Homo sapiens: one gene and its partners. The protein of the gene in region 1 purifies or fractionates together with the protein of each later gene. This does not show direct contact. Each region holds a gene or a part of one and is shown in the gene's direction. Other genes may lie near its edges. The genes, in order: POTEC, FAM83B and FAM83F.

What was found.
Region 2: the proteins of POTEC (region 1) and FAM83B purify together in Homo sapiens (affinity purification with mass spectrometry; one large-scale study listed by BioGRID and IntAct). This does not show direct contact.
Region 3: the proteins of POTEC (region 1) and FAM83F purify together in Homo sapiens (affinity purification with mass spectrometry; one large-scale study listed by BioGRID and IntAct). This does not show direct contact.

What each region holds. Positions count from the first base shown.
Region 1 is NC_000018.10:14,526,504-14,530,155, reverse strand, and holds part of POTEC (POTE ankyrin domain family member C), read left to right. Parts: intron 1-3,652.
Region 2 is NC_000006.12:54,849,745-54,853,396, forward strand, and holds part of FAM83B (protein FAM83B), read left to right. Parts: intron 1-3,652. UniProt on the Homo sapiens protein: Probable proto-oncogene that functions in the epidermal growth factor receptor/EGFR signaling pathway. Activates both the EGFR itself and downstream RAS/MAPK and PI3K/AKT/TOR signaling cascades.
Region 3 is NC_000022.11:40,025,844-40,029,495, forward strand, and holds part of FAM83F (protein FAM83F), read left to right. Parts: intron 1-3,652.

The sequences.
Region 1 (3,652 bases):
GATCCCTCAGATGAGCAGTTCACAACAGGGTTCATGCTCCAATGAGTATCTAGTGCTATCACTGATCTGACTGGAGGCAGAGTTCAGGCGGTAATATGAGCCATGGGGTGTGGCCGTAAGTACAGGTGAAGCTTCCCTGGTTTGCCTGCTGCTCACCTCCTCCTGTGTGGTGTGGTTCATAATAGTCCATGGAGTGGTACCAGTCTGTGACCTGAGAGTTGTGGGCCCCTGCTCTGGGTGGTCCTACCGTAGATAAAAAAATAAAAGTAAGGAATTTTTGATCACAAAAGAACGCCAAAGCACAAGTCATGTTACATATCCTTGTCCCAACAAGGTCTCACTCTTACTGACTTCATTCCTCCTCATTTGAAGTTGGAAAGAGATACATTTACTTTGTTGGAACAAGATGTGTTCTTCTACCTGCTGGTCAATTGTCTTGATAACAGTAATTTTGTTAGAACAAGATGCTCTGCTACCATTTACCAAAAGATTGTCATAATAAATATACAAATTGCCCACTTCTAGGCTCAGCAGATTATAATAAAAGTAGAAAAATGTTTCACATTAACAAAAATACTAGTATGCCACCTGGTTGTGGACACCTAATACATTGTATAATCCAAACTGTATTAGGACACCTTTAATTTAGCCATCTATTTATCAAAAAGCTTCTGTAAGTTAGGTTTTATAAGTTGCAGGAGACAAAGATGGAATAGATGTAGTTTTGATCCTTAAGGTGCTCATAGTAGAGCTGTCTCTATTTCATTTCTGTGCTTTTTCAACAGAATTTACAAAGAAAACATTTCTATGTTTTCACTTGTCCACTTAACAAATAACTATTAAATGTCCTTTAGATACTAATCATTTTTCTAATGTTACAGAACACACACAATTAAAAATACAGACAGGAGCTTGTTATTATCATTGTCATTTTTATTATTTTACTACTTTATTCAGTGCTTACTGTGTGCTCGATGCCCACTGGAAGCTTATAATAATGATTTATTATATATTAATTATGTGCCAGACATATGTGATGAGGAATGAAAGTTTTGAAAAAAAGTAGGTATGATTCAAGGTAAGCATGCAGAGTGAGAAGAATTTTTCTAGGTAAAGAAGCAGAAGAATAATGTTTGGCAGAAGGAACATGCAACAAGATTGTGTGTTTGCCAGAAGAACATCTAATGAGGTTGCCTGTTTGGCAGGAAGAGCAGCAAGTGCAAAACGCAAGATGCTGAGTGAACCTTGCAGGGTTTCTGAGCAGTTCACTTTTGCTAGTACCAAAAGTGTGAGACACCAGAGGTTGGGAATAAGGTGAATACTTAGCTAAGGCAAGTTTATGATAGACTTTTTAAATACTATAGAAATGAGTAGGTCTTACCCTGTGGGCCACGGGAAATTTACCAGGTACAATGCTTTGGACTGTAAATACTAGATGAGCAGTGGCTAAAACAGTAGGAACCAGAGTTGTTTTGGTTGTTCAGTGATATCCTAGGATCCCACTTGTCCCTCTTTCAGCTGTGCTGTTGGCAGTGTTTTATTCATGTCTCCTTTCATGGTTGGCTAATCCGCAGCAGCTCCAAACATCTTGTTCTCACAACACAACATTTCAAGGGCTGCTTTTCTTCACATGTGTCTTTTAAACAGGGAGAAAACTTAGAAGCATGCAAGGGGCTTCCTGTAACATTCCATTGGCTGGGTCACACCACATGCTCATTCCCAAACCAGGCACTGGGAAGGCAAATACATGATTAACTTAGAATAAACATTTCTCTTTCTGAGGCTGAGGAGGGGGATTGGGATAATAAATATCCCAATAGACTTGTGTTTCTTCTGCAAGAAAGAATAAGGAATGGCTATTGATAGGGAGCCAACAATGTGTGCTGCAGGGGCTCATTGGAGAAATTTGAGCAGGGAAGTTACAAGATTAAATTTGAGTATTAAGGCATATTCTGCTTATGGTGTAAAATGGGTTAGCAAGCTTTTTCTGTAAAGGACCAGGTGGGAAATATTTTAGACTATGTGGTCTCTGTCATATCTACTTAACCAGGCTGTTGTCTGTTGTTGTAGTGTGAAAGCCACCATGATTATATGTAAGCAAACAGGCATGACTGAGCTCCTATAAAACTTTATTTACAAAGCCAAAAGGCAGACTGGATTTGGCCTGTGGCCTATAGCTTGCTGGGATTGAGGGAAGATAACCATGTAAAGAAACCAGGAGACAAAGGAAGCTTTTGCAGTAGTCAGCTATAGTTTCCATGTCACACACCCTTGGACTAGTATCAATGTATTCTAAGGTTTTCACCTGCCCATGGCAAAATAAAGTTTGGAATCTCAGTTACTCATTTTAATGTGTTGGCCTTTTTTTGGTGTTATGCTTTTTTCATTTGTTTTGCTTAATTTTTTTCATGTAAGAAATAACATTAATAGTTGGAAGGGTTGTTTGTAATAAAAGCCATTTTGTAAATGTTTATGTTCTCAGTGGCAGTGGTAATATAAAGCAGAGGAAGAAGAGAGGTATAGTCAATATGATTTAGTGATAATTGAATGAGAAAGGTTTGGGGGACAGAGAGAAATGTCAGATAATTTACAGGTTTCCACGTTGTACACTAGTATTTAACCTGGACATGAGGAAGGAGTAGGAAATTTTCTCCATGACCTGTGTGAGTCACAGCTTCCAGAAAAGAAAGAGAGCAAGGAGCATATTAAGGAAGCACAGCAAAGTCAGTCCTAGAGTGCCCTGCTTGACTTCATGTCATAGTTCTGACTTCTAAAAAATCATTTTCTGCAAAATGTGCTTTGTGTTTTTCCCCTCTTGCAGCCTGCAGCCAAACAGAATCCCTTTAGCAGGGCATTTTTCTGTTCTTCCTTTAAACAAAGCAACATATAAATAACAAAAAAGAAGTAAGAGAAAGAGTGTTTTTTGTATAGGCTAGCATTTAACTTAAACTTGAGAGCGAGTACTAGGATTATACTTAGAATTTATGGACTGGGTAGGAAGACTAGATAGAAATCTAAATATTGCTGACTCAAACACAGTGTGATTTTTTGCTTTATTGTCACAGCTCTGAATTCACAACTATTAGTTATATTCATATACACTATAACTTTATAAAGCACCTTCCCAAATATTAAGTGATTTATTATAATTTCTATGACTTATTATAGAATTGACTTTCCAAGTGTTCATGAGAATTATTAAGAATTTGCTACGTAGTATCATCTCAGCTGTGTCCACATGAGCTAGCTGTCACCTTGTCTTAATGAATAATGGCTCACTAGGAATATTGGTTTTGGCATTAAAATGATCTACATCTAAATACAGATAGGACCAGGGACCACTCTTGAACGTTAATGTCTAAGCATCTTAAAAGTACACATAAGGCTTTCATAATCTGACTTCTGCCCTACTCTACATCGTTAGCCCTTTTCCCTGTGTGCCCTTTCTCTGGCATTACTGAGTGGCTCTTAATGCCCTACTCACTCCTCCTTCTATTGCAGGCAAATACTTTCACTCTTTCAGGCCTCGCTCCTGCTCTTGCTGCTGTGTGGCATGCTGTCACCCTTTCTTGCCCTCTACCACTTTTAATCTAGCTAGCCTCAATATTTGAGTCTCTGCTTGGGCAGGTGTTCTAGAAAAGCCATCCCTGAC
Region 2 (3,652 bases), on another chromosome or scaffold:
TGGGGTGAGAAGTCCCCTAAGGGCACATGACATTTATCTTTTCAGCTGTGTCTTAAATAATTTGTAGATTACTGGTCCATGGGAAACTTAAATTAGTCATGGTCAGCCTCTCTTGCATACTGACATAGAGTCAGGTGTAGTCTCCCGGTTACTGGCAGGGGCCTATGTTGAAGAGTTTATAGAGAAGTTATGCAGTGATGATGATTATCTAATGGCTCTAACTTTGTGCTCTTTTACACTATCCCTTTGATTAAACATATTTATTGACCATTATCTGCCAAGCAATATGTTCCTCTCCAGGGGTAGGAAAGTAAAAATATATTCCTGGATCTTAGGAAGCTTCCAGTTTAGGAACCTAATGATAATTATAAGTACACAAATAAATAAATGGATCAAGTCCACTGATTTTTGTAGTTCCTTCCTATTCTCTGAAGGTCACAGCAGACGTTGTTTGTGTTCATTAATCATTTGTGAAATTGAACATTAGCAGCCCTGGGATAGTCATGTTTTTTGACAAAGTATTAACATTCTTTAGGCTTGCAGGTTTTTCACTGGTATTGTGAAAGGTTTAGACTATGTGGTCACTCCTGTGTCCCACCCACACTGCTCTGAAATTCTCTGTGATCACTTCTTATTGAGAGTATCATAAAATAATGTTAACTAAGGTTTCCCCACAGTATCACTGTGAAGCTTATTATTTCCACTTCTTTGGCCAAATTTTCATTTCAAAAGGTTTTCGTTCTTTAACATCAGATTCCTTCTTTGATTACATAAACATTACTACTTGGAGAAGAAAAGGCAGTTTTCAAAGCACTAAAGAGTGTCATCTTCCATCTCAATGGTGGTAATAGAATAACTCAACATAAGATGTTTGGGCTGTCATTTATATATACACACTGGCAATGATGGCTTTAATTCTTAACAGCATGTTACTCCAAATACCTAGTCTCATAAGACTCATTCAACAGATGTTTTAAAAGTACTATATTTTAACGGCTGGAAATAGTGGCTCACACGTGTAATCCCAGCACTTTGGGAGGCTGAGGCGGGTGGATCACAAGGTCAGGAGTTTAAGACCAGCCTGGCCAAGGTGGTGAAACGCCGTCTCTACTAAAAATACAAAAATTGGCCAGGCGTGGTGGCGGGTGCCTGTAATCCCAGCTACTTGGGAGGCTGAGGCAGAGAATTTTTTGAACCTGGGAGGCAGAGCTTGCAGTGAGCCCAGGTCGCGCCACTGCACTCCAGCCTGGGTGACAGAGTGAGACTCATCTCAAAAAAAAAAAAAAAAAAAAAAGTGCTGTATTTTTCTCAAATGTAACTTCTGACTTATTTGTTTAAAGATGAGTGCAATATAGCTAAGTTGTTTTTAGAGTAAGTAACTGTTTACAGTGTTCCCCTGTGATTCTTTTTTTTAGTTTCAACCCTTCCTTTCCATTTTCATCTTTATTGGCCTTTTCATCTTTTTTTGTCACATCTCATCCTTTGTATCCTCCTTTTGTCCCTTCTCTTCCTTCTTTTTTCTTTTATGCTTCTCTTCTCTTCCCTCCCATTATGTTTTTCTCTTCACTTACCTTCTCTTTTTATCTATCCCTTCTGAGTCCTTCTGATTTACTTTTTTTCCCGTTCATCTTTCTTCTTTCTCATCTCCCATTTCATACTTCTATTTATTTGTCCATTTCACCATCTGTTGAACTACCTATTTATTTACATTTTGTTTTGTTTTGTTTTGGTTTGGTTTGTTTTTTTGTGACACAGTCTCACTCTGTTGCCCAGGCTGGAGTGCCATGGCGTGATCTTGGCCCACCACAACCTCTGCCTCCCGGGTTCAAGTGATTCTCCTGCCTCAGCCTCCCGAGTAGCTGGGACTACAGGCAGGCGCTACCATGCCCGGCTAATTTTTGTGTTTTTTTTTTTTTTTTTTGAGACGGAGTCTCGCTCTGTCGCCCAGGCTGGAGTGCAGTGGCGAGATCTGGGCTCACTGCAAGCTCCGCCTCCCGGGTTCATGCCATTCTCCTGCCTCAGCCTCCCAAGTAGCTGGGACTACAGGCGCCCGCCACTACGCCCGGCTAATTTTTTGTATTTTTAGTAGAGACGGGGTTTCACCGTTTTAGCCGGGATGGTCTCGATCTCTTGACCTCGTGATCCTCCCGCCTCGGCCTCCCAAAGTGCTGGGATTACAGGCGTGAGCCACCGCGCCCGGCCTAATTTTTGTGTTTTTAGTAGGGACGGAGTTTCACTATGTTGGCCTGGCTGGTCTCAAACTCCTGACCTTGTGATCCACCCACCTCGGCCTCCCAAAGTGCTGGGATTACAGGTGTGAGCCACTGCGCCTGGCCTATTTACAGTTCTTTATTTCTGTCTGTCATCTTTATCAGCACAGTTCTCTACTTTGGTATTCTAAAAATCTGTACAAGTAAAATTAGAAGCATATCTCGTTTTATTGTGCTTTGCTTTATGGTACTTTGCAGCAATTGTGTTTTTACTAATTGATGGTTTCTGGCAACACTGCCTTAAGCAAGTCTGTCAGTGCCATTTTTCCAACAGCACATGCTCACTTTGTGTCTCTGTGTCACATTTTGATAATTCTCACAATATTTCAAACTTCATTATTATAATATCTTTTTTTGGTGATCATTGATCTCTGATGTTACTCTTGTAATTTTTTGGGGGTGCTACAAATCATGTGCACATATGACAGTGAACTTAATCTATAAATGTTGTGTGTGTTCTGACTGCTCCACCAACTGGCCATTCCCCTGTGCCTTTCCCACTCCTTGGGCACAGTATTGAAATTAGGCCACTTAATAACTCTACCAGGGCCTTTAAATGTTCAAGGGAATGGAAGAGTTGCATGCCCTCATTTTAAATCAAAAGCTAGAAATGATTAAGCTCAGTGAGGAAGTCATGTTGAAAGCTGAGATAGGCTAAAAGCTAAATCTCTTGTACTAGACAATTATCCAAATTGTGAAAGCAAAGGAAAAGTTGTTGAAGGAAATTAAAAGTGCTACTCCAGTAAACACACACATCATGAGAGAGTAAAATGGCATTGCTGATAGGGAGAAAATCTTATTGGTCTAGAATTCAAGGCTGTTCAATCTGTGGCCTGCAGGCCATATATAGCCCAGGACAGTTTTGAATGCTGCCCAATACAAATTTGTGAACTTTCCTAAAAGATTATTCGATTTTTGTTGCAATTTTTTTTTCTTTTTTTAAGCTCATTGGCTATTGTTGTTAGTGTATTTTATGCGTAGCCCAAGACAATCCTTTTTGGCCCAGGGAAGCCAAAAGATTAGACACCCCTGGATAGATCAAGCCAGCCACAACATTCTCTGCCAAAGCCTAATCCAGAGCAAGACCTTAACTCTCTTCAATTCTGTGAAGGCTGAGAGAGATGAGAAAGCTGGAGGAGAAAGGTATGAAACTAGCAGAGGTTGGTTCCTGAGGTTTAAGAAAAGAAGCTGTCTCCAAAATGTAAATGTGCAAAGTGAAGCAGCAAGTGCTCATGAAGAAGCTGAAGCAAGTTATCCAGAAAATCTAGCTAAGATAATTGATGAACAAAGTGACACTAAACAACACATTTTTAATGTAGGTGACACAGCCTTCTAGTGGAAGAAGATGCCATCTAGTATTTCAGAGCTAGAGAGGGGAAGTC
Region 3 (3,652 bases), on another chromosome or scaffold:
GACCAGCCGACTCCGTGGCGACTGAGGAAACACAGATGAGGCCCTGCCCTTTGAGTGCTGCCAGCCTAGGGGAGGAGATCCCTGTGCTGTGCCTGAGACCCCACCCAGTTCCCCCAGGGAGATGACTGGGAAATGGCCAACACTTTTGAAGTGGCGAGAGACATGGTGCCATACTCCATCACATGGAACTGGCGTCCTCCTCGCTGCCATCCTGCCTGATGACAGCATCTCACAATGAGACCCCCAAGGTTCAGAGAGGCCAGGCCCTGTGTCCGTGGCTGCCCAGGGAGAAAGGGCAGTGTGATCTCCTGCCTCCCCAGCCTTCTGCAGATATCATGGCCATCTCCAGAAGGCTAGGATCGGCACCGTTTCCCTGCACCTTTAAAGACTGTTTGGGCCCGGCGTGGTGGCTCATGCCTGTAATCCCAGCACTTTTGGAGGCCTAGGTGGGCAGATCATGAGGTCAGGAGATCGAGATCATCCTGGCTAACACGGTGAAATCCTGTCTCTACTAAAAATACAAAAAATTAGCCAGGCATGGTGGCACTTGCCTGTAGTCCCAGCTACTCGGGAGGCTGAAACAGGAGAATCTCTTGAACCCGGGAGGTGGAGGTTGCAGTGAGTGGAGATCACACCACTGCACTCCAGCCTGGGTGACACAGTAGGAATCTGTCTCAAAAAACAAAACAAAACAAAACAAAAAACTGTTCGGAAGAACCAGAGCCCCAAATAGAGGACCAGCCCTTTCCCACGGTGTTGTGGGGGCCGAGAGGAAGATGACAGCAGCAACTTGCTTCCCAGAGTGCCTCGGGGTCCTTTCCTGCCCCAGAGTCCCTGGGCCTGTGCTTTGCTTCCCAGTTTCTCTGAGGTGACCTGCAGTGACAGTCCCTTTCCAGAACTCTCCTGGGGTCCCTGGATTTATGTGTGGTTGGCCCCCTGGCTGGCAGTGTGGTCTGGCTCTGTAGAGCTGTGGCTGCTGGGCCGCTGGATTGGGGGACTTGTTCTCCTGTGTCATCCCTTGGGGCCGCAGGTCTCAGATCTCTCTCTTGCTCTTGCTGCGTCTGGGGCATCTGCTGCTGTTATTACTGTTGTTACTAGGATTGTGCTAAACCCCTAAGTAGCTCGCCGTTGCTGTCTCATGCATTTTATTCAATAAATATGTGTCTACGAAGTGTCTGCTCTGTGCCAGGCCCTGCTCTAAGTTCCTGGCACAGCTGTGAACAGAATGAACATGGTCCTTGCTTTTATGGAGCATGTTACCCTGGGGAGAGACGAGGATTAGGGGAGGATGACCCTTCTATAAAGGGTGCCAGGGAAGGCCTCTCTAACCAAGGAGCCTCGGAGCAAGACTTCAATGGAAGGAGAGGGCCCTGTGGACATCTGAGGGAAGATTCTTCCAGATACAGGGAATGCGAAGCCCTGGAGCCTGTGCATGCGGTTTGCACATCATTGTCCTTGTCATGGCTTCCATGTGGGTGACCTCTGCCTCCCTCTCTCCCGCACCACCTCACCTGCCAGCAAACCAGACTGACTGCAGGTCCCGAGTGCCCCAGGCTGCCACCCTCACCCCATGCTTATGTCACATGGCTCCGCTCCGCTGAGCGGCCCCTCCTCCCACCCTGCACCCGTTTTCAGCTCCACCTTGGCGTCACCTCTGAAGCTCCCAGGCCACGCATACTTTGTAAAAAAGACTATTCTGGTCATTTATACACCTTCCCTGTTCACCTGAGCAGGGCTGACTCCCCACACGTGGTCAGCTCCCAATATGTGAGCACTCAGGGAATGACAAGGGACACAGAGTTTGTCCTCAAGCCAAGCCAGTTTCTCTGTCCTGTCCGGGGCTAGGAAATGAATTCTGAGTCTAGGTGCTGTCTCCAGGCTTTCACCCTGCCTTACAAAAAAGTGGGGAGCATGGTGCTGGTGAAGATGGGCCCTGCCCCTGCCTTGCCAGGCTTCTCCCGGAGGCAGCCAGCCGGGTGGTGTGCAGGCTTGGGAAGCAGCTACCCCCACCACCACCCACCACCATCCCACCCCCAGCTACACCGCCTCCCCTGTTTAACGATCTGGAGGTTGATTTGCTTACCTGCCTCCAAAATGCTGCTGCCTCTGGGGAGGAACTGACATCTGCTTAGTGGGCCACGCAAATCAAACCAGCTGATGGGGGGAAATGGGGACGAATGTGTCCATTGCAGCAGTGAGTGACTCTAAGATGGCCGCATTTCATCCCACTAGCAGAGCCGCCCCAGACGTGCTCGGCACCACTGCGGAAAGTGACCCCCAGCGCCTTGGCCATGGAGCCCTTGGGGCGCAGCCTCCTGCCCAAAGGTGGGGGAACACCCTTAATGAGGGTGCAGCTGGATTTGTGGTCAGTCCTGAAGAGCTCGTTCAGTCTGCCTGGATGGATGAGGCCCGAGGCCGTGGGTCACAGTGCAGTGGGCAGGAGCAGCAGCCTGTGTGGCAGGGCAGGGCTCCAAGTTGGGCTCTGTTCAGTGGGTCCTGCTCATGGCCCAGGAGAGGAGGCAGACATGGCCTTAATTAAATTCACAGCTGAAGTGATACTGGAAGGTTGTGTGAGCACCAGAGAGGCAGCCCTTGCTGTGTGGAGGGGAACTGGCAGGAAATAACACGAGCGCCTTCCACCTGGGGAAAGGCAGCCAGCGCTCCGAGGACATGGGCTCCCCGCTCCAGCGCCTGACACCTCGCAGGCCTGCAGGTGTCAGGCCTGCCTCGCTACTCCCCTGCACTCCCTCCGGAGGTCCGAGAGCAGGAATCCAGCCAAAGGAACCGCAGGCCTCATCTCAGGACTGTAAAGAGAGTGGGAAGGAATGGTAGAGGCCTGGGGAAGAAGAGAAATCAGCTTCTCTGGCCGGGGGCGGGGGACAGCTTTCTCTCCCCCTTCCCTCCCTACAGGCAGCGCGTTCCTCTCTGTCCTCCCTTCAAAGGCGCGTCCTAAGCAGTGTGATCCACCCCACGGTGGCAGCTCTTGGCCAGCGCCAGCCTTTCCTGAGGCGCCAGCTTTCCTTCTTCCAGCCTAGGCGGCCTGTGGCGGAAGGAGCTGGAACTGGACCGGGAAGGCCAGGTTCTGGCACTGTCGCTGGCTGGCTCTGGGAGCTGTGGGCACCTCAGCGGTAGAATGCGGCAGCCCGGGAGGGGAACCAGAGAGAAGGACCGCAGTCTTACTTTGCAGGCGGTGGAGCTGCATGTACTAGCTGGTAGTGAGCGGCCTCTTGGCTAGACGTGTGTGTGTGTGTGTGTGTGTGTGTGTGTGTGTGTGTGTGTGTGTGTGTGTGAAAGCAAGTTTATTAGAAAAGTAAAGAAACAAAAGAATGGCTAGTCTGTAGACAGAGCAGCCAAGACTTTGGACTTGATGGTTGTTGTCATTGATTCTGCAGCCTGGATCCTTCCCCGACCCCTCTTTGGTCAGGAGATGGCTGTCACCTTGATGTCCCACCCAGTGGGGCTCCTGCCGAGGCTGCTGAGACAGGCAGAATCTTCCCTTCTACTTTCCCGGGTGCCCTATTGACTTGGTTTCCAGATCAGCAGCTTGGGAGGGAGACAGTGACCCCAGCCCCTCAACTGGAGATGTGGACAGCACACAGGGTAGGAACTGAAGCTGAATCCACCAAGCGTTTCACTTACATCCTTCCCCGCC